Linked DNA regions of Homo sapiens: regions 1, 2, 4, 5 and 6 are each linked to region 3. Evidence: fine-mapped expression QTL. A gene starts in region 3. Each other region holds a variant in brackets. All regions are shown on one strand. Distances are from middle to middle.

The links.
Region 1: its variant is fine-mapped to the expression of LIRIL2R in amygdala (GTEx, PIP 0.96).
Region 2: its variant is fine-mapped to the expression of LIRIL2R in hippocampus (GTEx, PIP above 0.99).
Region 4: its variant is fine-mapped to the expression of LIRIL2R in prefrontal cortex (BrainSeq, PIP 0.91).
Region 5: its variant is fine-mapped to the expression of LIRIL2R in whole blood (TOPMed, PIP above 0.99).
Region 6: its variant is fine-mapped to the expression of LIRIL2R in prefrontal cortex (GTEx, PIP above 0.99).

What each region holds. Positions count from the first base shown.
Region 1 is chr6:247,312-251,404 of GRCh38, forward strand. No RefSeq gene overlaps it. Among named protein-coding and RNA genes, the nearest start is that of DUSP22, 43 kb to the right of the region's middle. The variant G/T (reference allele first, on the strand shown) is at 1,813.
Region 2 is chr6:278,604-282,696 of GRCh38, forward strand. No RefSeq gene overlaps it. Among named protein-coding and RNA genes, the nearest start is that of DUSP22, 12 kb to the right of the region's middle. RefSeq lists a silencer at 2,674-2,828. The variant G/A (reference allele first, on the strand shown) is at 2,555.
Region 3 is chr6:178,711-182,803 of GRCh38, forward strand. LIRIL2R (lincRNA regulator of IL2RA) reads left to right here and starts at 1,685. Exons shown (of 2, transcript XR_926349.3): 1 at 1,685-4,093. LINC03066 (long intergenic non-protein coding RNA 3066) reads right to left here. Exons shown (of 8, transcript NR_126020.1): 7 at 3,656-3,764; 8 at 2,756-2,985.
Region 4 is chr6:140,420-144,512 of GRCh38, forward strand. It overlaps the pseudogene SEPTIN14P6 and the pseudogene CICP18. Among named protein-coding and RNA genes, the nearest start is that of LIRIL2R, 38 kb to the right of the region's middle. The variant T/C (reference allele first, on the strand shown) is at 2,421.
Region 5 is chr6:151,075-155,167 of GRCh38, forward strand. No RefSeq gene overlaps it. Among named protein-coding and RNA genes, the nearest start is that of LIRIL2R, 27 kb to the right of the region's middle. The variant T/A (reference allele first, on the strand shown) is at 2,365.
Region 6 is chr6:227,721-231,813 of GRCh38, forward strand. It overlaps LOC105374870 (a long non-coding RNA gene), which reads left to right and starts at 3,210. Exons shown (of 3, transcript XR_926357.3): 1 at 3,210-3,278. RefSeq lists enhancers at 1-29, 40-159, 170-229. The variant C/T (reference allele first, on the strand shown) is at 2,254.

The DNA of each region.
Region 1 (4,093 bases), 69 kb after region 3:
TTAAAGTGTGAAATTTAGCGTTTTTTAATACTTTTGAAGAGTTGTGTAACCATCATGACTACGTAATTTAGAACATTTTTATCACCTTCAAAAAAAATATATCCCACACCTATGAGCAGTCACTCCCTATTTTCTCTTCCTCCCAGCCCCTGGCAATCACTAATTTAGTTTCTGGCTCTGTGGATTTCCCTTTTTCAGACATTTCGCATCCATGGTCTGATACAGCATGTGGTCTTTTGCGCCTGGCTTCTTTCACTTCACATTTTCAAGGTCTTTGGGGGTCATTAGCGCCGTGCCATGGATAAGAACTTCATTTGCTTTTGTGGCTAATAGTCTCTTGTATGGATAGACCACATTCTGTTTAGTCACTCATCAGTTGATAGACATTTGGGTTGTTTCTACTCTTTGGCTATTACAAAAAATGCTGCTACTATGAACATTTATGTACAAATGTTACGTAGACATATGTTTTGATTTCTGGGGTATACACCCAGGAGTAGAATTTTTAGGTAATATAAGAACTCTGTTTAATATTGTGGGTAACTGACACACTGTTTTCCAAAGTGGCTGCACCATTTTACATTCCCATGGTAAACTAAGAGGGTTCCAATTTTTCGTGTCCTTGCCAATACTTACTATTTTTTTTGAGATGGAGTCTCACTCTATTTGGAGTGCAATGGCGTGATCTCAGCTCACTGCAAACTCCGCCTCCCGGGTTCAAGCGATTCTCCTGCTTCAGCCTCCTGAGTAGCTGGGATTACAGGCAAGCACCACCACGCCCGGCTAATTTTTGTATTTTAGTGGAGATGAGGTTTCACCATGTTGGTCAGGCTGGTCTCGAACTCCTGACCTCGTAATCTGCCTGCCTTGGCCTCCCAAAGTGCTAGGATTACAGGCGGGAGCCACAGCGCCTGGCCAATACTTACTATTATTTGTCTAATTATAGCCATCCTCATGGGTGTGAAGTGATATCTCATTGTGGTTTTGATTTTCACTTCCCTAATGGTGGATAATTTTTGGGCATCTTTTCATATTCTTGTTGGCCATTTATATATCTTTCTTAGAGAAATGTCTGTTCAGATCCTTTGTGCATTTTTTTAAAAAATAGCTTATTTTTCTTTTTATTATTGAGTTGTAGATGTTCTGTACTTATTCTAGAAGCAAGTTACCCTTCTATTCTGAATATATTTGATTTGCAAATATTTTTCCCATTTTGTGGGGTTTTTTTTTTTAACCTGATGGTGTCTTTTGCAGAACAAAAGTTTTTAATTTTGATCAAGTCCAATCAATCTTTTTTTTTCATTTGCCACTTTTGCTTTGTTGTTTTATCTAGGAAGACTTTACCTAACTCAAGGATATTAAAATTTACCTTTAGTACTTCTTCTAAGAGTGTATAGTTTTAGCTCTCACATTAAGGTTTATGACTCATATGGATTTAATTTTTGTGTATGTAAGAAAGGAGTCCAACTTTATTCTTTTGCATGTTGATATTCAGTTTTCCCAGCACCATTTGTTAAAAAGATCTAGAGAGAGGAGGGTAATACTGGACCTACTCATAAAACCACCCGTGCTTGATTTTCTAATTTCTAATTTAAAATTATATCTATGAGTCTAATAATTTCCTAATTTTTAAAAATATTTTAATTTTTAATTTTGTGGGTACATAGTAGGTGTATGTATTTATGCAGTACATGAAACATTTTGATACAGGCATATAATGTATAACAATCACATCAGGGTAAACGGGGTATCCATCTCCTAAAGCATTTGTCATAGCTTTGTGTTACAAACAATCCAATTATAATCTGTTAG[G/T]TATTTTAAAATGTACAATAAATTATTGTTGACTGTAGTCACCCTGTTGTGATATCAAATACTAGATCTTATTCATTCTAATATATATATTAGAATATATACATATATTCTAATTCATATATATACATATGTATAAATAGAAAAGAAATATATATATTTCTTTTTTTTTTTTTTTGTAGATGGAGTCTCGCTCTGTCACCCAGGCTGGAGTGCAGTGGCATGATCTTAGCTCACTGCAACCTCCGCCTCCTGGGTTCAAGTGATTCTCTTGCCTCAGCCTCCCAAGTAGCTGGGACTACAGATGCACGCCACCATGCCCGGCTTATTTTTGTATTTTTAGAAGAGACAGGGTTTCAGCATATTGGTCAGGCTGGTTTCGAACTCCTGACCTCAAGTGATCCACCTGCCTCGGCCTCCAAAAGTGCTGGGATTACAGGCATGAGCCACCGCACCCACCCATTCTAACTATATTTGTGTACACTTTAACCATCCTTCTGTCCTCCCCACCCCAGCCCTTACTACCTTCTGGGAACCATTCTTCCCCTCTGTATCTCCATGAATTCAACTGTTTTAATTTTTAGCTTTCACAAGTGAGTGAGAACATGCAAAGTTTGTCAGTCAGTGCCTGGCTTGTCTCACTTAACATGATGACCTCCAGTCCCATGCATATTACAGCATCTAATTCTTTTCTATGGCTGAATAGTACTTTATTGTGTATATGTACCACATATCCTTTATCCATTCATCTATTGATGGATACTTAGGTTGCTTCCAGATCTTGGCTATTGTGAATAGTGCTGCAATAAACATGGGCATGCAGACATCTCTTCAGTATAGTGATTTTCTTTCTTTTGGGTATATACCCAGCAGTGGGATTGCTGGATTCTAGGGTAGCTCTATTTGTCAAAATTGATTGGCCACAAACATAAGGATTTATTTCTGGACTCTAAATTCTCTTCCATTGATCTACATGTCCGGCTAGTACCACACTGTCTTGCTTACTGTCACTTTGTAGTAAGCTTTAAAATCAGGACGTGTGAGTCTTTCAACTTTGTTTTAATTTTTCAAGATTGTTCTGGTTATTCTTGGTGCCTTGCCTTTCCGTATGAATTGTATAATAAGCTTGTCAGTTTCTGCCGAAAAAAAAAAGCCAGCTGGGATAATGATAGGGATTATATTGAATCTGTAGATCAATTTGGGGAGTACTGCCGTCTTAACAATAAGTATTGAGTATTCCAATCTATGTTCATGAGATGTCTTCCATTAATTTAGATCCTCTGTAATTCTTCCAATGATGTTTTGTACTATAGTTTTCAGTGTAGAAGTCTTGAATTTTTTGGAAAAATCTATCCTTAAAATATTTTATTCTTTTTGATACTATTATAAATGGAACTATTTTCTTACTTTTATTTTCAAATTGTTCATTGCTAGTGTATAGAACCAACCGACTTTTGTATATTGATCTGCTACCCAGCAACCTTAATGAACTAATTTTATATGCCTAATAGTTTATTTTGTGGCATGCTTAGAATTTTTAATATTAGATCATGTCATCTACAAACAGAGATAGTTTTACTTCTTTCTTTCCCATCTGATGTCTTTCACTTTTCTTTCTTGTCTAATTGTCCTGGCTTGATCCTCCATTGCAATGTTGAATAGAAGTGGTGAGAGTGGACTTCCTTAGGGCAAAAACATTCTGTCTTTTACCACATGTGTAATGTTAGGTGTGGTTTGTTTGTAGATTCCCTTGATCAGGTGGAGGAAGTTCCCTTCTATTCTTAGTTTTTGTGTGTTTGTATTATGAAAGATTGTTAAATTTTGTAAAATGCTTTTTTTCCCATCTCTTCAGATGACTATGTGGTTTTGTTGTCATGCTATTAATACAGTGCATTACATTGACTGATTTTTCAAAGTTAAAGCATCCTTATCTTCTTTGGATGAATCTCATTGGATTCAGTTTGTGTTTTGTTGAGGATGTTTGTATTGATATGTATAAGGGATATTGGTTTGTACTTTTCTTATGATATCTTTGACTGGTTTTGGTATCAGGGTAATACTGGCGACATAGAATAAGGTGAAAAGTGTTTCCTCCTCTTCTCTTTTTAAGAGTTTATGAGAGGGTCCGGGCGTGGTGGCTCATGCTTGTAATCCCAGCACTTTGGGAGGCTGAGGCAGGCGGATCGCTTGAGGTTGAGAGTTCGAGACCAGCCTGACCAACATGGAGAAACCCCATCTCTACTAAAAATACAAAATTAGCCAGGTGTGGTGGCACATGCCTGTA
Region 2 (4,093 bases), 100 kb after region 3:
GCACCACCTTGAGGCTCCTTCTAATCCTCCAACCGCAGCCCTGAAATCTCTCTCATAAGAATCTGGTGGAAGGCTGTGGGCAGAGCCTGGAGGTGGCTCTCAAGAGAATTTGGTGGAAGTCTGTGGAGGAAGATCCTGGATGTGGCTCTCGTAAGAATTTGGTGGAAGGCTGTGGGGAGAGCCTGGAAGTGGCCTCTCATGAGAATCTGGTGGAAGGCTGTGGGGAGAGCCTGGAAGTGGCTTTCTCTCATACTAGCTCATTGTTGTTCTCTAGAAATCTGTCTTGAAGGTTTATCTTCTTATCTACTTGCACGGTAGCTGGGATTCTGTTTCTCCCATTTACCACTGGTGGACAAATGCTCAAATCCTTTCTACCCTCGGAAAGAATTGTCTTTTTTTTGGATTTGGAACTATTTGGTTACCCTATGACCTCAGGTATTTGATGCGCTCAGGAAAAGTTACAATTCTATGGTATATCTAGTTTTTACTTGTTAGAGTGGGGGCAGTACTCCTGCCATTCTGTATATTTTCAACTCCTCATCTGTCTTTCTTTATGAGTAGAAATCTCAGTAAGGACATAATAAAACAGAGCTTTAAATGTATGCATTAGAATCTTCTTTAATTGGTCTTGCAAAGCACATAGGTTCCTCTGTTGTAATAAATAATAAAGACAGTGCCTTATCTTTATTATTCTCTAAATATATGTTAGGGACATTATTTGACCAACAGTATAACTGCATGGATGTTATTGCAAAGAACTTTCAGGAGGACTGAGAGCCATCTCTCGATGAGGCTGTCTCTCTTTCATACCGTTTCATTCCTAAGGCTATCTGCTGAGCACAGCTGGGGTTGTCAGAACTACCAAACTACTGGAAATGAGGTGCATGATAAAATAAATTATTTCAAATTAAGATCTCATAAAACCATCTTTGAGGTTACTTATTTAGCATACATTGACTTTTAAAAATTATCTCTACAATTCAGGACATCGCATAGTTCACTTCCTCAATATCCGTTGCCTATTTAAGCTGACAAATTTGAAATGATAGATTAGAAAGAGGCCTACTGCATGACATGTATAATTCACTCTTCCAGTCAAATTTAAGAGTCCTTGCCTTCATCTGGCCTTTACGCCCAGCATTACCTTCCACTGCTGACAACAGGACTGGAAGTGGCTCTCAGTGAGGCTGTCTGTGAGGCCGGAGGCTGGAAGTTCAAGAGGCAGGTGTAGGCAGAGTGTGTTTCCTCTGAGGCCTCTCTCCTTGGCTCATTCTCCCTGTGTTCTCACATGGGCTTCCCTCTGTGTCTCTGTGTCCCCACCTCTTCTTCTTGTAAGGACATTAGTCGGATTGGATCCAGGCCACCCTGATGGCCTCATTTGACCTGACTTACCAGAAGTAGCCATCATCGTCATATAGGTGTTCAGGTGGGAACCTCAGTATCTACCAAGTCCATTTTGCTTTTGCACTCAGCACTCCATCTTTTTTTTTTTTTTTTTTTTTTTTTTGAGACAGAGTCTCGCTCCATTGCCCAGGCTGGAGTGTAGTGGTGCGATCTTGGCTCACTGCAAGCTCCGCCTCCTGGGTTCACACCATTCTCCTGCCTCAGCCTCCCAAGTAGCTGGGACAACAGGCGCCCAACACTACGCCTGGCTAATTTTTTGTATTTTTAGTAGAGACAGGGTTTCACCATGTTAGCCAGGATGGTCTTGATCTCCTGACCTCGTGATCCACCCGCCTCAGCCTCCTAAAGTGCTGGGATTACAGGTGTGAGCCGCCGTGCCAGGCCTTGGCACTCCATCCTCTTTAGCCACCCTTTGTTTCAGTTTTGTGACTCCACCATCAGCTCTTCCTCGAAGACTCTGTCTTATTCATCTTTCACTCTTACCTTTTTATCTTCCAATGCTTATTTAAGTATTTTTTGCAAAATTAGAATTCAGCTGCTTATTTTAAAATTATTAAAGTAACATGCTTATAGCGATGACCTACTCATGGTGGCATGTGCTTTCACTGCTCCCAAAGGTGGAACAAATAATCATTTTTAGAGCAATCAAAATCTTGTGATTTTGCTGTAAGACACTTAACAAAATTTAAGTTGTTGTTGGGTTTGCTGTTTTTTCTCATGGAATTTGGCTCTGTCTTTTCTGCTTGGGTAACCCAGAGGCACCTGAAACTCAGGTGTCTGGGCAGCAATCATCATTTTCTCACTTAACAGGTTCCTCCTCCTCTGCTCCCAGCCTTTGGGAAGGGCACCGCCATCCATGAAGTTCCCTAAGCCAGGAACCCAGAGTTACCCTTTGCGTCTTCCTCCTCCCCATTTCCCAAATCCAGTGAGTTTCAAGTCCTGCACATCTTGCAGTCTGTGGCTTCCTCCACCAGCACCCTTCAGTCCCCCTTCCCCAAGGCCCATCTTTGGTTAAGGTCCTCATTATTTTTTACCTGGCTTTCTGTAAAGGTCTTCTAACTGATCTCCCCGCCTTCAGTCTTACTTGCTAGAATATGACATCCTCTAAACTGCTCTCAAGATGTTCAATCTAAAATCTGAATCCCAGGAA[G/A]GCTTCCCAAGCTCCCTGGGAGGAGTATCAGCTTCTGGCAAGGCAGGAGAGGATGATCGTCATCTGTCCCTGCCTCCCTTCCGCTCGCTTCCTGCCTCTCCCCATGCTGCACTCTGTAGGCCCACCTTGGTGTACCACCTTGGGTCCCCAAAGGTGCCCATCTCTCTCGCCACCACGCCTCTGAGTCTGCAACACCCTGCTCCGGAACTGCCCTTCACCCAGGCTTCCTCCTCTGGCTGAGGGATTTTTCCTCTTGGGATGCAGCCTGGACTGGTGGCTCTGGAGCCAGGCAGGCCTGAGTGTGGATCCCGGCTTAGCCATTTGCTCAGCCTCCCTGAGTCTAACGTTCCTATCTGTAAAAAGGAGAAAATAATACCAACCTTCCAGTATTTCTAGGAGGAATTAGAAGTAGTAATAAATATCAATATGTGGTAAAAATGACACAGATACCTCTTATTGTAGGACAAGTAGGATTCTAAGTGCTTTACTCATATTAACTCATTTGTTATTCCAGACTCCATTCACGATTCACCTCCTCCATGCAGCCTGTCTTGATTTCTCAATACCTGACTGGATGCCTTTGCAGATTATTTTTTCCCTCCCTGTTTATGTTCCCTCTCTCTTTGCCCCACAGGTGTCCTGGGAGCTTGGCACATATGGAACACATCAGTTGGACTCCTTTGCTGGCTTCCGGGTGGGTCTGGCGTTTGGAAAAGGTTGAGAAAGGCCAGGGCGTTTCTTCCCCATGCTGTCCATGATCAAGCTGTATCTGTGGCAGCAGGTGTGTCTCTCCCTGCATTAGTTTGTGAGGCACTACAGACTCAGTGGCATAAACAACAGTTATTTACTCACAGTCTGTGAGGCTGGAGGCTGGAAATTCAAGAGGCAGGTGTAGGCAGAGTGCGTTTCCTCTGAGGCCTCTCGCCTTGGCTCATTCTCCCTGTGTCCTCACATGGGCTTCCCTCTGTGTCTCTGTGTCCCCACCTCTTCTTCTTGTAAGGACATTAGTCGGATTGGATCCAGGCCACCCTGATGGCCTCATTTGACCTGACTTACCTTTTGAAAGGCCCGATCTCCAAATGCACTCACATTCTGAGGTGCTTCATAGGAATTTGGGGAAGAGGGACTCAACTCAGCCCCTAGAGATCCCCACCTACTCCGCAGGTGGCCCCCCTGCCGTGGCTCCAGCGGCCACTGGGCTCCAACGAGGCTGTTCTTCCTCCGCCCCTTCAGGCCTACGATGGTCACGGCTTCCCACTGTCTGGTCTCCAAGCCCAGGGCTCCTCTGGGTTCTCTTCACCCTGCCATGCGATTCATGAAGTGATTCCTCACTGAAGGTGCTTCAACTGTCTGACTGGAGTTTCATTTGCTGCTGCTGGGACACTTGAGGGTGCCTTGGCTGCGAGTACCCTGGACCACTTTCTTTCTTCTGCCCTGAACACCTGGGCGTGCAGCTCTGTGCTCCCTATGGAGGTGCAGGTTCCTTGGGGGCAGAAACCATGCCTTGCTCTTTGTGCACCCGCAGGGCCTTGCCCGGGG
Region 3 (4,093 bases):
TGTCCAGAGTCTTTTCCTTCTGGTGGGTTCGTGATCTTGCTGACTTCACAGGAGTAAAGCTGCAGACCTTCGCAGTGAGTGTTAACAGCTCTATCAAGGTGGGGCGTCCAGAGTTGTTTGTTCCTCCTGGTGGGTTCATGGTCTGGCTGACTTCAGAATAGAAGCCGCAGACCTTCGCAGTGAGTGTTACAGTTCTTCAAGGTGGTGCGGACCCAAAAAGTGAGCAGCAGCAAGATTCACTGTGAAGAGTGAAAGAACAAAGCCTCTGCAGCATCGAGGGGTACCCAAGCAGGTTGCCACTGCTGGCTCGCATGGCCAGCTTTTCCCTTATTTGGCCCTGCCCATGTCCTGCTGATTGGTCCATTTTACAGAGAGCTGATTGGTGCGTTTTTACAGAGTGCTGATTGGTGCATTTACAAACCTTTAGCTAGACACAGAGCACTGATTGGTGCATTTTTACAGAGTGCTGATTGGTGCACTTACAAACCTTTAGCTAGACACAGAGTGCTGATTGGTGCGTTTTTACAGTCTGCTGATTGGTGCATTTACAAACATTTGGCTAGAGGGAAAAGTTCTCCAAGTCCCCACCCAACCCAGAAGCCCAGCCGGGCTTCACCTCTCAGTAGGAGCGGGGTGCAGGTAGGATCAGGGTGCTGGAGGGGCATGGGAGGGTAGGACAGAGTGCGGTAGTGAGAGGTGACAGAGTGCTGGCAGCCCTCACTCGCTCTCGGTGCCTCCTCGGCCTCGGCGCCCATTCTGGCTGTGCTTGAGCAGCCCGTCAGCCCAGCGCTGCACCGTGGGAGCCCTTCTCTGGGCTGGCCGAGGCAGGAGCCGGCTCCCTCAGCTTGCGGGGAGGTGTGGAGGGAGAGGCAGGGGCAGGAACTGGGGCTGCGCATGGCACTTGTGATCTAGCTAGAGTTCCGGGTGGGCGTGGGCTTGGCGGGTGGGCGTGGGCTTGGTGGGCCCCACACTCAGAGCTGGCTGGCCGGCCCCACCAGCCCCAGACAGTGAGGGGCTTAGCACCCGGGCCAGCAGCTGTGGAGGGTGCTCTGGCTCCCCGAGCAGTGCCGGCCCACCGGTGCTGCGCTCAATTTCTCACTGGGCCTTAGCTGCCTCCCCACGGGGCAGGGCTCGGGACCTGCAGCCCACCATGCCTGAGCCTCCCCCCAGCCGCCGTGGGTTTCTGAGCAGCCTGAGCCTGCCCAAGGGGTGCCGCCCCCTGCTCCACAGCACACAGTCCTATCGATGCTTAAGGGCTGAGGAGTGCTGGTGCGTGGTGTGGGTGTGCAGTGTGGGACTGGCGGGCAACTCTGCCCACGGCCCCAGCGCAGGATCCACTAGGCAAAGCCAGCTGGGCTCCTGAGTCTGGTGGGGACTTGGAGAACTTTTATGTCTAGCTACAGGATTATAACACCAATCAGCACTCTGTGTCTAGCTAAAGGTTTGTAAACGCACCAATCAGTGCTCTGTGTCTAATCTAGTGGGGACTTGGAGAACTTTTGTGTCTAGCTAAAGGATTGTAAATGCACCAATCAGCACTCTGTGTCTAGCTCAAGATTCCTAAATGCACCAATCAGCACCCTGTCAAAACGGACCAATCAGCTCTCTGTAAAATGGGCCAATCAGCAGGATGTGGGTGGGGTCAGATAAGGGAATAAAAGCGGGCTGCGGAGGCAACCGTGGTAAGCTGTGCTTGCATCATGTTTGGAAACTGTCGTACTGCGCGAAGCTTTGCAGCTTCCCTCCTTAAAGGCAGTGAGATGGCAAACCCACTGGGAGGAATGAGAAACTCCAGGCGCACCACCTTAAGAGCTCGTGACACTCACTACAAAGGTCTGCAGCCACTCCTGAAGCAAGCGAGACCACAAACCCACCAGCAGAAAGAAACTGAACACGTCCAAACATCTGAAGGAACTAGCTCCAGACACACCATCTTTAAAAACTGTCACACTCACTGTGAAGGTCTGCGGCTTTATTCTTTTAGTCAGTGAGACCAATTCCAGACACAAGACCATCTCATCTCAAGAGACCAGGACGTCCGGGCACCCCTAGAATGTAGCTGCTGGCAGAGCCTGAAGTCTATCCAGCTCATGCTCTTCCCTGATATCCTTGACAGATTGTGGGATGGTTCAGCCTCTGCAAGGACATGGCCAATGATGGGGGGCTGGTTTTGGGGGCAGCACTCTAGGCAAGGGAAGAAATAAAGTGTCTGGGAACTGGCGTGGTGAAGGGGCACTTTGTGGAGAAGATGTGTTCACATTTGGATGTGTCGAGGGTGGAATGATATGAGGAAAGTCAAAGGGTGCCCACCCCCAGAGCCTAGGTGTGGGCACAGCACTGCACCACGCCTTAGGGGAGATTGGACTCTGGGCAGAGATCCCAAGAGAAGCAGGAGTTGGAGTCTTGGGGGCCAGTGTGATAGGGAACTAACTTTACTTTAAAGCCAATTTGTCAGTAAGAAAAAACGAGGTGCACCTTGTAGGAGAAAAAGTCACAAGCTTGGTGTGCTTGAAGTCACAAGCCTTGCTGTGCTTGGTGAGAGGGATCCCGAGTGTACTTGAGGCACTCTCCTGTTTAAAAGGGGAACGGTGGTTTTCTTTTCTCAGTGTAGGTTAGTGTAAAAAATCTGCTTTGTAATTGCATAAGGTCTCAGCACAAACAAAATCACAGAAAATGTGAAATGTATTATAACAGTCAACTTGCTTAGAATGTAGTTGAACCTGCATGCAGTATTGAGACACCAGACAACTGTTTTCAGTCTCCACATTTCTTTCATTTCCTTTATGAAAGTTACATTAAGAAAAAAAATAACTCCCTTGAGTATTCTGATATTTTCGGTGAGTGAAACAGTAATCTCAGCAAAGTTCAATCTTGGTATCAGACAGAATTTCAGGTTGTTTCATCTAATTGCCACTTAATACCAAAGACATGATGTTTATTAGCATGTATTTCTAATGAGAAACTATTATAGTCGTCCTCAATTGTCTGAAATATGAAGCGGAAAAAGAAAATTATGAGCCCCAGATACCAGACCAGTTGCTGATCAGATAGAATATCGTGGTTCCAGCATATTATGAAATAAAAATTCAAAGACTGAATACCATGCAAAAGGTCAATATTCGGCAGCATCTGAGAAGTCATACATCTAGATAGACCTAAACTATAAGTGCAGAAGTGCTACAGTAAACTATATGGGCTTTCTACTAAGTACTGGCTAATTTTAAAACATACTGAAATTTATGTACATTAGTCTTTGTTATAAGAATTGAGAATCCGCATTGTATTATAAAGTTGATCTACAACAGTCACTTTATTATAAAATATTTTCGGCCTGGCGCGTTGGCTCACACCTGTAATCCCAGCACTTTGTGAGGCCGAGGCAGGCAGATCACCTGAGGTTGGGAGTTCAAGACCAGCCTGACCAACATGGAGAAAACCCCATCTCTACTAAAAATACAAAATTAGCCGGGCGTGGAGGCAGGTGCCTGTAATCCCAGCTACTCCGGAGGCTGAGGCAAGAGAATCGCTTGAACCTGGGAGGCGGAGGTTGCAGTGAGCCAAGATCTCACCATTGCACTCCAGCCTGGGCAACAAGAGTGAAACTCCATCTCAAAAAAAAAAAAAAAAAAAAATTCACCAGAAGGAAAGTGCTTACCTATTTGAACAACTCTGTACGGGTCTATACAGTATTCCAAGGCTCTTCAATAAGCACATGGTGATGACCCAGGTCAGTCGTGGCAAGGTTGGGGAATTAGAACAAACCTCTGTGGCAAACACAGATTATAGCTTGAAGTGAGCATCACGGATTTCTACAACAAACACTCTGACAAATATTTCCTGTGATAAACATCCACGTTCTCGAGGTGGGACAATTAACCCAAACTTTCCAAATTACATAAAAACTTTTGCTCTATCTAATTAAGCTGATAAATTCATTATTTTAAATGACAACATACAAAAGAAGTATAGATTTTTACTTAAAACGTATTGGATATGTGGGTATTCTCTTGTCTTTCTAAGCAAATGCTAATATCAGTTCAGTGCTTAACAATGTCAGCAGCAACTGGGCCCTCTAAGTCTCCTGCTACTGAAG
Region 4 (4,093 bases), 38 kb before region 3:
GCTGAACACCCAAAAGAATATGCTTTTTTCTGATTATCAAACAAACCCAAATCATCACAGTAGAGCACGATCTTAATAACAATCTCAAAAACTCAGGAGTAAACACTCAGATATGGAATTTTTCTTTTCTTTCTTTTTTCCTTTTATAAGATGGAGTCTCACTCTGTTGCCCAGGCTGGAGTGCACTGGTGCAATCTCAGCTCGCTGCAACCTCCATCTCCCAGTTCAAGTGATTCTCCTGCCTCAGCCTCTTGAGTAGCTGGGACTACAGGCATGCACCACCACTACAGGTGTGTGCCACCACACCTGGCTAATTTTTGTATTTTTAGTAGAGATGCGGTTTTGCCATGTTGGCCAGGCTGGTCTCGAACTCCTGACCTCAGGTGATCCTCCCGCTTTGGCCTCCCAAAGACTTTTTTTTTTTTTTTAATATACAGACAAGTTCTCAGTATGTTGCCCAGGCTGGTCTCAAACTCCTGAGCTCAAGTGATCCTCCCACCTCAGCTTCCCAAAGTGCTGGGACTGACTGGATGCAGTGGCTCATGCTTGTAAACTCAGCACTTTGGGAGGCCAAGGTGGGAGGATCGCTTGAGCCCAGGAGTTCAAGACCAGACTGGGTGATATAACACAATAGTAAACTTCAACAGGAGAGAGAATCTGTAAACTTGAATATAGATCTTCTGAAATTATCCAGTCAGAGGACAAAGAAAAAAAGAATAAAAAAGAGAAAAGAAGGCTGGGCGTGGTGGCTCAAGCCTGTAATCCCAACACTTTGGGAGGCCGAGGCAGGCAGATTAAGAGGTCAGAAGTTCAAGACCAGCCTGGCCAACATGACAAAACCCCATCTCTACTAAAAATACAAAAATTAGCCGGGTGTGGTGGCACACACCTGTAGTCCCAGCTACTTGGGAGGCTGAGGCAGGAGAATCACTTGAACCCAGGAGGCGGAGGTTGGAGTGCAATGTGAGCCGAGACCACACATTGCACTCCAGCCTGGGTGACAGAGCATGACTCTGTCTCAAAAAAAAAAAAAAAAAAAAAAAGAGACAGAGAAAAGAAAGCCAACAAGACACCATTAGGCAAACCATTGTCAGGTTATGGGAGTTTGAGAAGGAAAGTAGAGAAAGGAGAAGAAAGCTTATTTAAAGAATGGCTGAAAACTGCCTAAATCATGGGAAAGATTTAGACATCTAAATCCATGAAGCTTAAAGATTCCTAAAGAGGTTCAAACCAAATAGATACTCACCAAGTCACAATATAATCAAATAGTCAAAAGTTAAAGAAACTTTGCAGGTCAGGACAGAATCGAATAATACATTCAAAGTGCTGAAAGAAAAAAACTGCCAGCAACTAATACTATGTCTGACAAAGCTGTCCTTCAGAAAGAAAAAAGAAATAACGTGTTTCCTCGACAAACAAAGCTGAGGGCATTCAGGACCACTAGGTCTACCTTAAAAAAATGCTTAACGGAGTTTTTCAAGTAAAAAGGAATGAAGTTGGGAGCGGTGGCTCATGCCTGTAATCCCATTTTGGGAGGCTGAGGTGGGTGGATCACCTGAGGTCGGGAGGTCAAGACCAGCCTGGCCAACATGGCAAAACCCCACCTCCAGTAAAAATACAAAAAATTAGCCAGGTATGAAGGCCACTGAGATCGTGCCACTGCACTCCAGCCTGGGTGACAAGAGTCAAACTACATTTCAAAAACAAAAAACAAAACAAACAAAAAAAACAAAACTTGAGGCCTGGCCTTCTGCTCCTCTCCAACCTCCCCTTCTCTGGGCCCAAGCCACCTTGGCTGAGGAGGGGGCGAGGAGGTGTGAGCCCCTGCCAGGAACCCCCTGCCCGGACCAAGTACTCGGCCCCCAGGCCTGCGTTCAGTGAGGCCTCCCGTGGCGTCAGCATGTTCGTGTGGAGGAATGTGGAAGGTCACTCTGCGGCTGTGTTCCCCTGGTACTCCATCCCCTTCCTGACCCCTCCCTGCAGCCACACGAGGCCCAGCAACCTGCCAGTCACTCAGTGGCCTGCAACCAGAGAAAACAACCTGCCAAGTTGCCAGCTGTTGCTCATGAGCGTCCACCAGGTGGGACAGGGAGTGTTGACCCTGGGCGGCCCCCTGGAGCCACCTGCCCTGAAAGCCCAGGGCCCGCAACCCCACACACTTTGGGGGTGGTGGAACCTGGTAAAAGCTCACCTCCCACCATGGAGGAGGAGCCCTGGGCCCCTCAGGGGAGTCCCTGCTGGACAGTGAGACAGAGAATGACCATGATGATGCTTTCCTCTCCATCATGTCTCCTGACACCCAGTTGCCTCTACCACTCAGATGATGTCAGGCCCAGTCCCTCAGTGCCCTGCGCAAGGAACAGGACTCATCTTCTGAGAAGGATGGACGCAGCCCCAACAAATGGGACAAGGACCACATC[T/C]GGTGGCCCATGAGTGGCGCTCATGATCTTCAGCAAGCGGCACCAGGCCCTGGCGGGGCGCACCAGGGTCACCCCAACCAGGATAACCGGACCGTCAGCCAGATGCTGAGCGAGCGGTGGTACACCCTGGGGCCCAGTGAGATGCAGAAATACGACCTGGCCTTCCAGGTGAAGGTGGCCCACTTGCAACAAGGACCGAAAGAAGTCCAGCTCAGAGGCCAAGCCCACAAGCCAGGGGCTAGCAGCAGTGTAACAAGGGCTCGTGGGAGCGGAGCATATCAGAGACGGGCACTGCCACTGCCCCTGGGGCGTCCTCTGAACTCCTGTCAGTTGCAGCCCAAACACTCCAGAGCTCGGATGCCAAGGAGCAGCTTCTGTGGGGCAGAACGGCTGCACACAGTCAGGGAACCTGGCTCAGCCTGGCCCAAGCCTTCTCCCACAGCGGGGTACACAGCCTGGACGGCAGGGAAATAGACCGTCAGGCACTACGGGAACTGACACAGGTGGTGTCTGGCACTGCATCATACTCTGGCCCAAAGCCTTCTACTCAGCATGGAGCTCCAGGCCACTTTGCAGCCCCTGGTGAGGGAGGTGACCCGTGGGCAGCCCTGCTGCTGCCCACCTGAGCTGCTCATTCCCAGCACATGGCCAGTGAGGACACAGCGAGTGACGAGGAGCACACGGTCATCCATGAGGAGGAGGGGGTGATGATGTCATTGCTGATGATGGCTTTAGCACCACCGACACCGATCTCAAGTTCAAGGAGTGGGTGACCGACTGAGAGTGGGGACAGCTCTGGGGAGGAGCCAGAGGGCAACAAGGGCTTTGGTGGGAAGGTATTTGCACCTGTCATTCCTTCCTCCTTTACTCCTGCCGCCCCTTGCTGGATCCTGAGCCCCCAGCGTCCCCCGATCCACCTGCAGCTTTTGGCAGTCTATGGTCACACCCTGTCCTCCTCCTACACATACTCGGATGCTTCCTCCTCAACCTTGGCGCCCACCTCCTTCTTACTGGGCCCAGGAGCCTTCAAAGCCCAGGAGTCTGGTCAACGCAGCAGAGCGGGCCCCCTACGGCCCCAACCCCTGGGGATGGGGGCCCAGGGACGCCTTCCAAGGTGGCCTGTTTCCTCCCAATGGATCCTGCCACCTTCTGGTGCAAGAGACCTGAAAGTGTGGGCGACCTGGAGCTACCAGGCTCCTCAGTCATCAGGGTCCCTCCCAACACTAAGGCTTTCCTAGGCAGGAGCTGGGCTGAGCCACCCGGGGAGCAGAGCCTGAAGAGAAACTGACTGGGCTTTAGGGGTCGGGGCAGAGGGAACCCCACGGACATGGATCCCACACTGGAGGACCCCACCACGCCCAAATGCAAGATGAGAAGATGTTCCAGCTGCAGTCCAAAGCCCAACACCCCCAAGTGTGCCATGTGTGATGGGGACAGCTTCCCCTTTGCCTGTACAGGTGGAGAAGCCGAGGACAGGCTCAGGGAACCGGAGACCGAGAAGGAGCTGTCCTCTTCACTGCACGTGCCCTGGACCAGTGCCGGCCCTGATCATGCAGCTCTTCCAGGCCCACTGCTTCTTCCTGTCCACTAGGCCACAGCCGCCCTCCAGGCCCACTATGCACACATCTTCCCCTCCAAGGTTTGTTCTGCCCCTGCCCTGACTCCCAGCCCTG
Region 5 (4,093 bases), 28 kb before region 3:
CAAAAATCACATTCCTAAGTATTTTGACAACTACTTTGATGCTATTTCCAAACAAAAGCTACCATGCAATTATTTACAGAAGCCTTATTCATAATGAACAAAGGAAAAAAAAGGAATCAGAAAGTCTTACAATAGATGACTGTGTGGGAATCCACTCAGACATCAAAAGTTGTTATAAAGATTATTTAAATGAAAGCATTTGAGATACTGAAGATAAAGGAAGAAATCTTAGCAGAACTTACTTTATCCAGTTAAAGCAGAGCTCCCAGAAAAATACAGCTGCCATTAACCCCATCCAAGGAGTTTCTTGCAAATTCAGCTGCCATGAAGACAGCGTACTCTTTCCCATTAGCAATGATAAATGAAAATGAAATCCTAAGCTCCCAACTGACTGAACAGACCCACTCTTGGCTGAGGGGACCCAAGAGTAAATTTCAAAACTGAGTTCTCAGCTTTGCTAGCATTTGAGATTGTGATGGTTGAATAAACTAATTAAGAGCCCAAAATGAAGGCTTGGAATAAATAACTGAGGGTGTCTAATATCCCAGTTTTTCATCCTAGAATGGGCAGAGTCCTTGACCCCATTCTAGGGAGACTTCCAAAAGAAAAAAGACCTGCATTTCTTCAACAACCCACATTGAGAGACTTTCTTGCACTTTTGACCTGTGGCTAACACTCCTCACCTTTCATTCTGTCATCAGTGTTTTGGGGAAACACCTTTAACTCTCTATGATTCACAGGTTATTAAGTGGTCCTTATAATTCCCTCCAGAGATGCAAAAGACTAATGATGGTGTCTGAGCTCACAGCAGCAAGCAGGCGTGTGTGCACAGCAGCCACGTGGCTCATCTGCTAGGAGCTTACTAAATACGATGTTCTACAACATTGTTTAACGCAAGGGGAGACGCTCCTACTCAGAGGGTTTAATTGCTCACCTACTTCTTTTTCTGCCTTCTTGGGCTCCTAAAATGAAAAAAAACCCTGGAGTGATAAAGTGAATCAAAGGGGTACCAGCTGCATCACAGCAAAATAGATTCCTAAAAAATCCCTGGCCTAAGATGACAGCCTTGGCTGGATAAGCTTGAATGTGCTGATAGTGGACATGGTAGAATGAAGGTGGTTGAAATGTTCATATTAAAGAACTTCCACCCAGATTGCAAGAAAAGAGAGAGGAATGGAGATGGCAGCACAAGCCCCTACAATAAAAGCAGATGTTTTGAGATCAGTTATATTTGTCCTGAAAAAAATAAAAACAGAAACCAAAGTTTAGCCTGAGGCTACAATTAATTGGGCAATAAGCCAGAGGCATATATGGCATAGACAGACTTAAACATTTCTCCCTTGTATTAATACAAATACTAAAATTACAAATAAACTGATTCCAAATAAAACAAATACTTTAAAAATTTAATGAATAAACACTGGAGTCTACAGTAGCATTTGAAGGAGATCTCACAAACAGGTTTGGTTTCTGAAGGTTAGAACTGATGGTCTAGAGAATTCATTTCATTCCAGAGACAGAAAGAGAGGAATTTCTTAGGCTCCTTCAGGAATGCGTCTGGCTTTGCATCATCTTTGTATGTTTGAACTATGCATATGGCGTAAGAAAACAGGATTTCACAGATTTAAGGTGCGAAAAGTCACTGGGTTCTCTTAAGAAGTCTGGGATTATTCTGCTGGAAAAATAAGTTTGTTGAGAAAAAATGAGTTGGAGGAGGCTGTTATTGAAGTGAAGCAGAATTGTTTTTACTAATCTGCTTATTACCCACTCTGTAGTGTGGAAACAAATTATTCATGCACAAGGTCCTCTCACTGTTCCTGGAATGCAGTGGAAAGAGAACAGATTAGTTTTTCCTCCTTCAGAACACAACCACTAGAAACATCCTACCTCAGATGAGATATTCCCTAATTATTTTCAAAAGACAGTGAAAAACGATGGATGTAAATGTTTGCTACAAAATAAATACATGGTAGAAACAGAAGCATCTGGGTCACAGCTATATTAGAGCTACCTGTGTTCCCCTGTCACTGAGATTAAAACAAAAATGTCCAATACAATCATTCACAGCATGGGAGAGGGGAAGTTGAAGGGTTAGGAAACGCCAGTCATAAAAGGATTTCAGAATTTCAGTCCATAAGGAAGTGGTTTTGTGCATTGTCTGTTCTTGTGTGCAAGGTGAAGTCTGGAGAACAGAAACGTGCAGTAACAAGGGCTCCTTTGTCCATATCACCTCTCTAGATATCAAGTTTCAGACATGTTGCATTTTAATTGAAAGGTTGATATAATTTTTTGAAAAAGAAAACTTGTGGTGTTTGAAGTGACAAAGACTGCTGTGACAAAAAAGCAGGGAAAGGGAATTTTTTT[T/A]AAAAAAGCAAACAACAACAACAAAAACCCACAAAAAAGCAAACAGCAAACAAACAAAAAACAGGGGAAGAAGTCGAAACACCCTGGGTTGTGACTACTTCCAGGAAGGGGCTACAAGAGGCAGTTGGAAATTCTATTTGCTTTGCAACTGTGAGTTTTCCAGCCTGCTCCCTTTCTAAAGTATATTACTCTGCTTTTGGTTCATGAAGTTATCCATTTCTGTTTTCTGGAACAGCTATGTATTTTCTTTATCTATCATCTATCTATCTATTTACCATCTATCTTTTCTACCTTTCGCTATCAAGAGCTTGGGTCAAGCAGGATAGAATTCCAGTGTATGTTCACTCTACCATTTAAAACAAGAGCTCTTGTAGGCATTCTCCATCACATCATAAACCTGAGCTTTCTAAAACAGGGTGTGGCAAACTACCATGCATGGGCCAGGTCTGACACAGTCTGCGTTTGTAAGTAAAGTTGTAATGGGACACAGCCACATACATGTGTTATACAATGTCTCTGGCTACTTTCATGGTATAATGGAAGAGCTGAGTCATTGAGAGAGGGACAACATGGCTTGGAAAACTTGAAATATTTAACATTTAGCCCTTTGCAGAAAATATTTGCTGACTCTTGTTTTAGAAGATCTCTCTTTAGAATGCTACCTATTGCCTTCTGGATAGAATCACAACTCTTTACCACAATCAACACACAGCCCTGCTTTTATTATTTCCACTCCTCCTCCTTATTTTCCTTCTGACAATGCCGATGGATTGTCAGCTTCCCAGATGTGCAAGAATCTCTCCTCCCTTCCCGACATTCTCATGCTCTCCCTCTGCCTCTCAAGAACTTCCTGTCCCATCTCTCATGACAAATCTCTTCTTCATTCTTTAAGATGCAGCCCCTTTGCTCCTTCCTTAAGGATGTCTGTCTGGCTTTATTTTGGGTGACATGCTCCTTCTGCATCTCCCAGAGCCAGCCTCTGTGTGTCAGCTACAGCATTTCTTTGCATCTCTGTGTCATATATCATCAAATCTGCCTAAGCTTGAGTGAGTCACTGCATGACAACTTCAGACTCCACCAGCATTGTCTGCACTAACAACGAGGCTTAGAGATTTGTCCAGTATGCTCGGGGTTGTGGGGTGGTAGCAGTAACCAGCTGGTGAGCATCATCTCTTACATCAGAATGAAATCTGTAGATCTCTGCCATTCATAAGTATTTGGAGCTTAAAATTAGCATAAAGATTTTCCTTAAGAACAAATGGCTTGAGTAGGCTTTTGGAACGTAGGATATTTCTGCTCGTTCATTTCAGCGTTCAGTATTCCCACATGAATCTAAACACGGCTCTGCTCTTAGTAACTGTGCGACCCTGGGAAAGTCACTCAATCTCCCTCAGCTAAATTTTGTTGTGTGAGTAATGAGAAGAGAGTTGTGGTTTGTATTTAGTGAGTAATAACAAGCAAAAGGCATTTAGCTTTCTGGAACCTGGTATGTAGTAGATCCTCATGAAATACTAGCTCTGTTGATAAAACTAGACTGAAAGAAGCTTTCAAAGTCAACAACAGTATCATGTAGTGACGGACGTAGATGAGAAGCTGCTGCTGCAGCTTGCAGCTCCTGGAGGCCAGTTTTGTCCATGACTTAGCAGGAATGCACTACCTTTCCATGAGGAGACACTGCCCAAAGAAACCAAGGCCATTCTTTGAGGACAAATATGTTTTAATAGCTTTT
Region 6 (4,093 bases), 49 kb after region 3:
CATAATTGTAACTTTTCTTCTCAATACAGTCCTTTTCTCCATTCGATTAAAGTGATATTTTGCTTACAAGTAACAAAAACCTGGCTTAAAGCACAAGGACATTTCTAGTTTACTTAAGTCCAGAGATAGCTGGTCCCAAGGTATTTCGGCCACTCAGGCCACTGAGAACCAGGTTATTTCTGTTCTGTCATCCCTAGAGAGTTGGGCTGTCTACCGAGCAGTCACTGTTTAACATGGACATAGGCGGCAGCTGCCTGGGAAAGCACCATGTGTTTTCACAACGGGGTTCCAGGTTCGCAAGAGAAGGACTTTCTGCTCTTGCACCTCTCTCCCTTATGGGGGGGAAATATTTCTGGGCAGCCCCAGCAGACATCCTACTGGATGACAGGGTCTCTCCTGGCATTCTCCCCTGGCAAGGGGAGTGTGTGGGTGCCTCTGTTTGGGCCATTCCTCAGAGCGACTGTATTGTTCCCTGAACATAATCAGGCTGCCCCGCAGGATGGTGGTGGGAATGGCTGGTGAGCCTTTGACACTGCGAGGTTGTAGAATGTGTTCTAAAACAACAGAGAGGCATCAGAGCACGAGGAGGGAGGGAGGGAAGGAAGAAACAGGCAATGGTGGGAATGAGGAGCAAAGGAAACAAGAAAGAAAGATTTAAATCAGGCAGGAACACCAGGTCCTAGCGTGTAGGTACTTTTTAAGATGGAATGTACTTTACAACTAAACCCTATGTCAGATTCATGTTCATTTATCATGACTTCATTATATGCTGTAGTAGCTTAGTAGTTTTCAAAACTTTTTGTTTTTTTGAGACAGGGTCTTGCTCTGGAGTGCAGTGGCACAATCTTGGCTCACTGCAACCTCCGCCTCCTGGGTTCAAGCAATTCTCCTGTCTCAGCCTCCTGAGTAGCTGGGACTACAGGCGCCCACCACCACGCCTGGCTAATTTTTGCATTTTGAGTAGAGATGGGGTTTCACTACATTGGTCAGGCTGGTCTCCAACTCCTGACCTCAGGTGATCCACTCTCCTCGGCCTCCCAAAGTGCTGGGATTACAAGCGTGAGCCACCGCGACTGGCAGTTTTCAATCTTTTTGAAGCAAGCAAATTTTATATTAAAAAAAAAAAAACATTGGTTTTTTGGTGTGTGTGTGTGTGTGTTTTTTTTTTATCATTTGATAGGTCAATATAAAACAAAGGCAATCCATTTTCCACCCAGAAGTGACTTATACCACATGCTTTGTCTAAGCCTTCATTTGCTCTTGGGAAAAATGTTCCTCATCTTTCTAGAATGAAGAGAAGTACTTTCTTTGGAGATTGACAGGGGCCAGAACAAAGTTAAATAATGTACTCCTGGAAATGCAATTTTGTCAAAGGAGTAACTTCTCTCAGTCCTCAACGCGTGCAGTCATTACACAAGTGCTCGGCAGAGTCAGGGAGTCTCAGCATCGTTCTAGAAAGCCCAGATTGACCGCCTTCCTTCCACTATGCCTGGGCTGGCGGGAGGGCAGGACTAAGTGGCGGGATTGCACCCCTCCCCGCAATGTCTAAAAGTGGAGCCGGGCTCAGCCAGGCAGTGGGTGGGGGTGTGTGGGTCTCAGCCAGTTTCAATGGTTTTGACAATGAAACTCACCTGGGTGTGTGTTATTTGGCTTTGTTCTTCAGATTTAGACCCTCTCCTAAGTCAAATTGAAACTCCCCGAACTGGTATCCTATAAGAGCTGACCCTTATAGTAATGTGTGCTTCGAATCATGTGAACTGAAACCTGTGGACTTCCCACAGCCCAGCAGGACCCACCTTCCCAAGCAGCAAACCCTGGAGCCTCGAGCTGACACGTCAGTCCTTGTGCTTCGTGCACATTTAGAAGGAACTTCAGACAAACTTCATTCACTTCAAACTCTGTCCCCTTGGAGCCTCGAGCTGACATGTCAGTCCTTGTGCTTCGTGTAGATTTAGAAGGAACTTCAGACAAACTTCATTCACTTCAAACTCTGTCCCCTTGGAGCCTCAAGCTGACACGTCAGTCTTTGTGCTTCGTGCAGATTTAGAAGGAAATCCAGACAAACTTCATTCACTTCAAACCCTGTCCCCTTAACCTATTTCCAGTATCCAGAGGTAAAGCAAATCCTTCAATGTGATGCCCAAATAAAACTATAAATATACATATGTAATATATACAAATACAGAAAAATATATACATACATATGTGCACACATGTCTATATGTTTGCATGTATGTATATGATATTGAATCA[C/T]GCTTTTTCATTTAATAACATGACTTGCAGAACCTTCCACCTGCATATTTAGTTCATATCACTTTATTCTATTTAATAGCTGCAAAACCTCGATCCAGTCTCTTCTATTTGTTGATACGAGGGCTCAGCCCCCCACCCACCCCTCATTTTTTTGGCCTTGTTAATGATGCAATTAATGTTGATAGATAGATAGATAGATAGATAGACAGACAGACAGACAGACAGACAGATAGATAGATAGAGATATGTAGAAAGATATCTATGTATCTCTATGTATCTATTTTTATATGTACTTAAAAACAAATATCTGTAGAGTGAGTTGCCTGAAAAAGGATAAGTGTATTTTCACAGGAATTACCTATTGCCCGCCAAAATTGTTGTCCAACTCAGCCTCTCACCAGTGGTGCAGGAGACTGGTAAACCTCACCAATGCTGGGTTTTATTAAGCTTCATTTATTGCCAATGCTATGTAAATAGCCAGTTATACAGCACTAGTATTTTGCTTTCCATTTCCTTAATCAGGAGTGTAACTGAGAAATCTGTCTCATGTTTGATGGTCAAGAACTGGCTTTTGAGAGTCTCTATTTTTCAATAGAATATTTCCCCTTTTCTTTACTGATATGACAAAGCTCTCTTTACAATAAGCAAAGACACCTATGGTTGGTCACCTGCCTTGCAAAACTTTCCTAAGTATATTGTTTCTCTTTTGGTTTTCTGTATTTTATATGTAAAAGGTTAGGCTTTTTGTGAAATTTGGTAATAAATGTTATTACTTCTGGCATTCCTGGCCTCTTTCATCATGACTATTTTTTCAATCACTCATCTTTTTTTAGCCCTCATGATTCCAGCTCCTTTTAACATATGACACCGCTTTTGAAAGATGGTGGTTGCTAATCCTGAAGCCGTTGACTCCCCAGATGACGTTCCCGTGAAACGCTTGGCAGTTGCAAGAGGAACTCGGGTCCTCAGTGCCGTTTACCAAGGCCGACAAAGTCCAGCGGCATTATCGTGTCATCGTGACATCGGTATTTGACTGTGGAAGCTGAAAGCCCGTTAGATAATTACATAAACATTCATGGCAAGAAATACTGTTTCCTTATTTCTTATTTTTATTTTTTTTTTGAGACGGAGTCTCGCTCTGTCGCCCAGGCTGGAGTGCGGTGGCGCGATCTCGGCTCACTGCAAGCTCCGCCTCCCGGGTTCACAGCATTCTCCTGCCTCAGCCTCCAAAGTAGCTGGGCCTACAGGCGCCCGCCACCATGCCCGGCTAATTTTTTTGTATTTTTTAGTGGAGATGGGGTTTCACCGTGTTAGCCAGGATGGTCTTGATCTCCTGACCTCGTGATCCGCCCGCCTCAGCCTCCCAAAGTGTTGGGACTACAGGCGTGAGCCACCGCGCCTGGCTGTTTCCTTATTTTTTATTATGAAAGATTCCTGGGCTGTTGCAGTCCTATTTATACCTATAATTTCTCTTATTCAACTGCAGTGTCCTTGCCTTCTTGTTTAATTGGGGTAATACTCCTTTCACTGAAATACTTTGGAGGAGTGTTGTAAAGTCTGCTGAGAAAATTTCTGTGAAAAGTTTTAAAGATATTGGGGGCAGTGTCTGCCAAACAGATTCTTCTCTGATGCCCTGGGCCCAGCCTTCTGTTTCTGTTTTCATTGATAATTTGTCGTTTCTTTTGAGAATGTTTCAAGTCAAGATAAAGATCACTGTGATGGGAACATTTATCTCCTCAATCACACCAGATACTACATTACTTTTTATTTACTTTTCTATAATTTCCATTCTTATGTAATGAACACTTAATAATTTTACATGTTCAAAAACGATGGATGT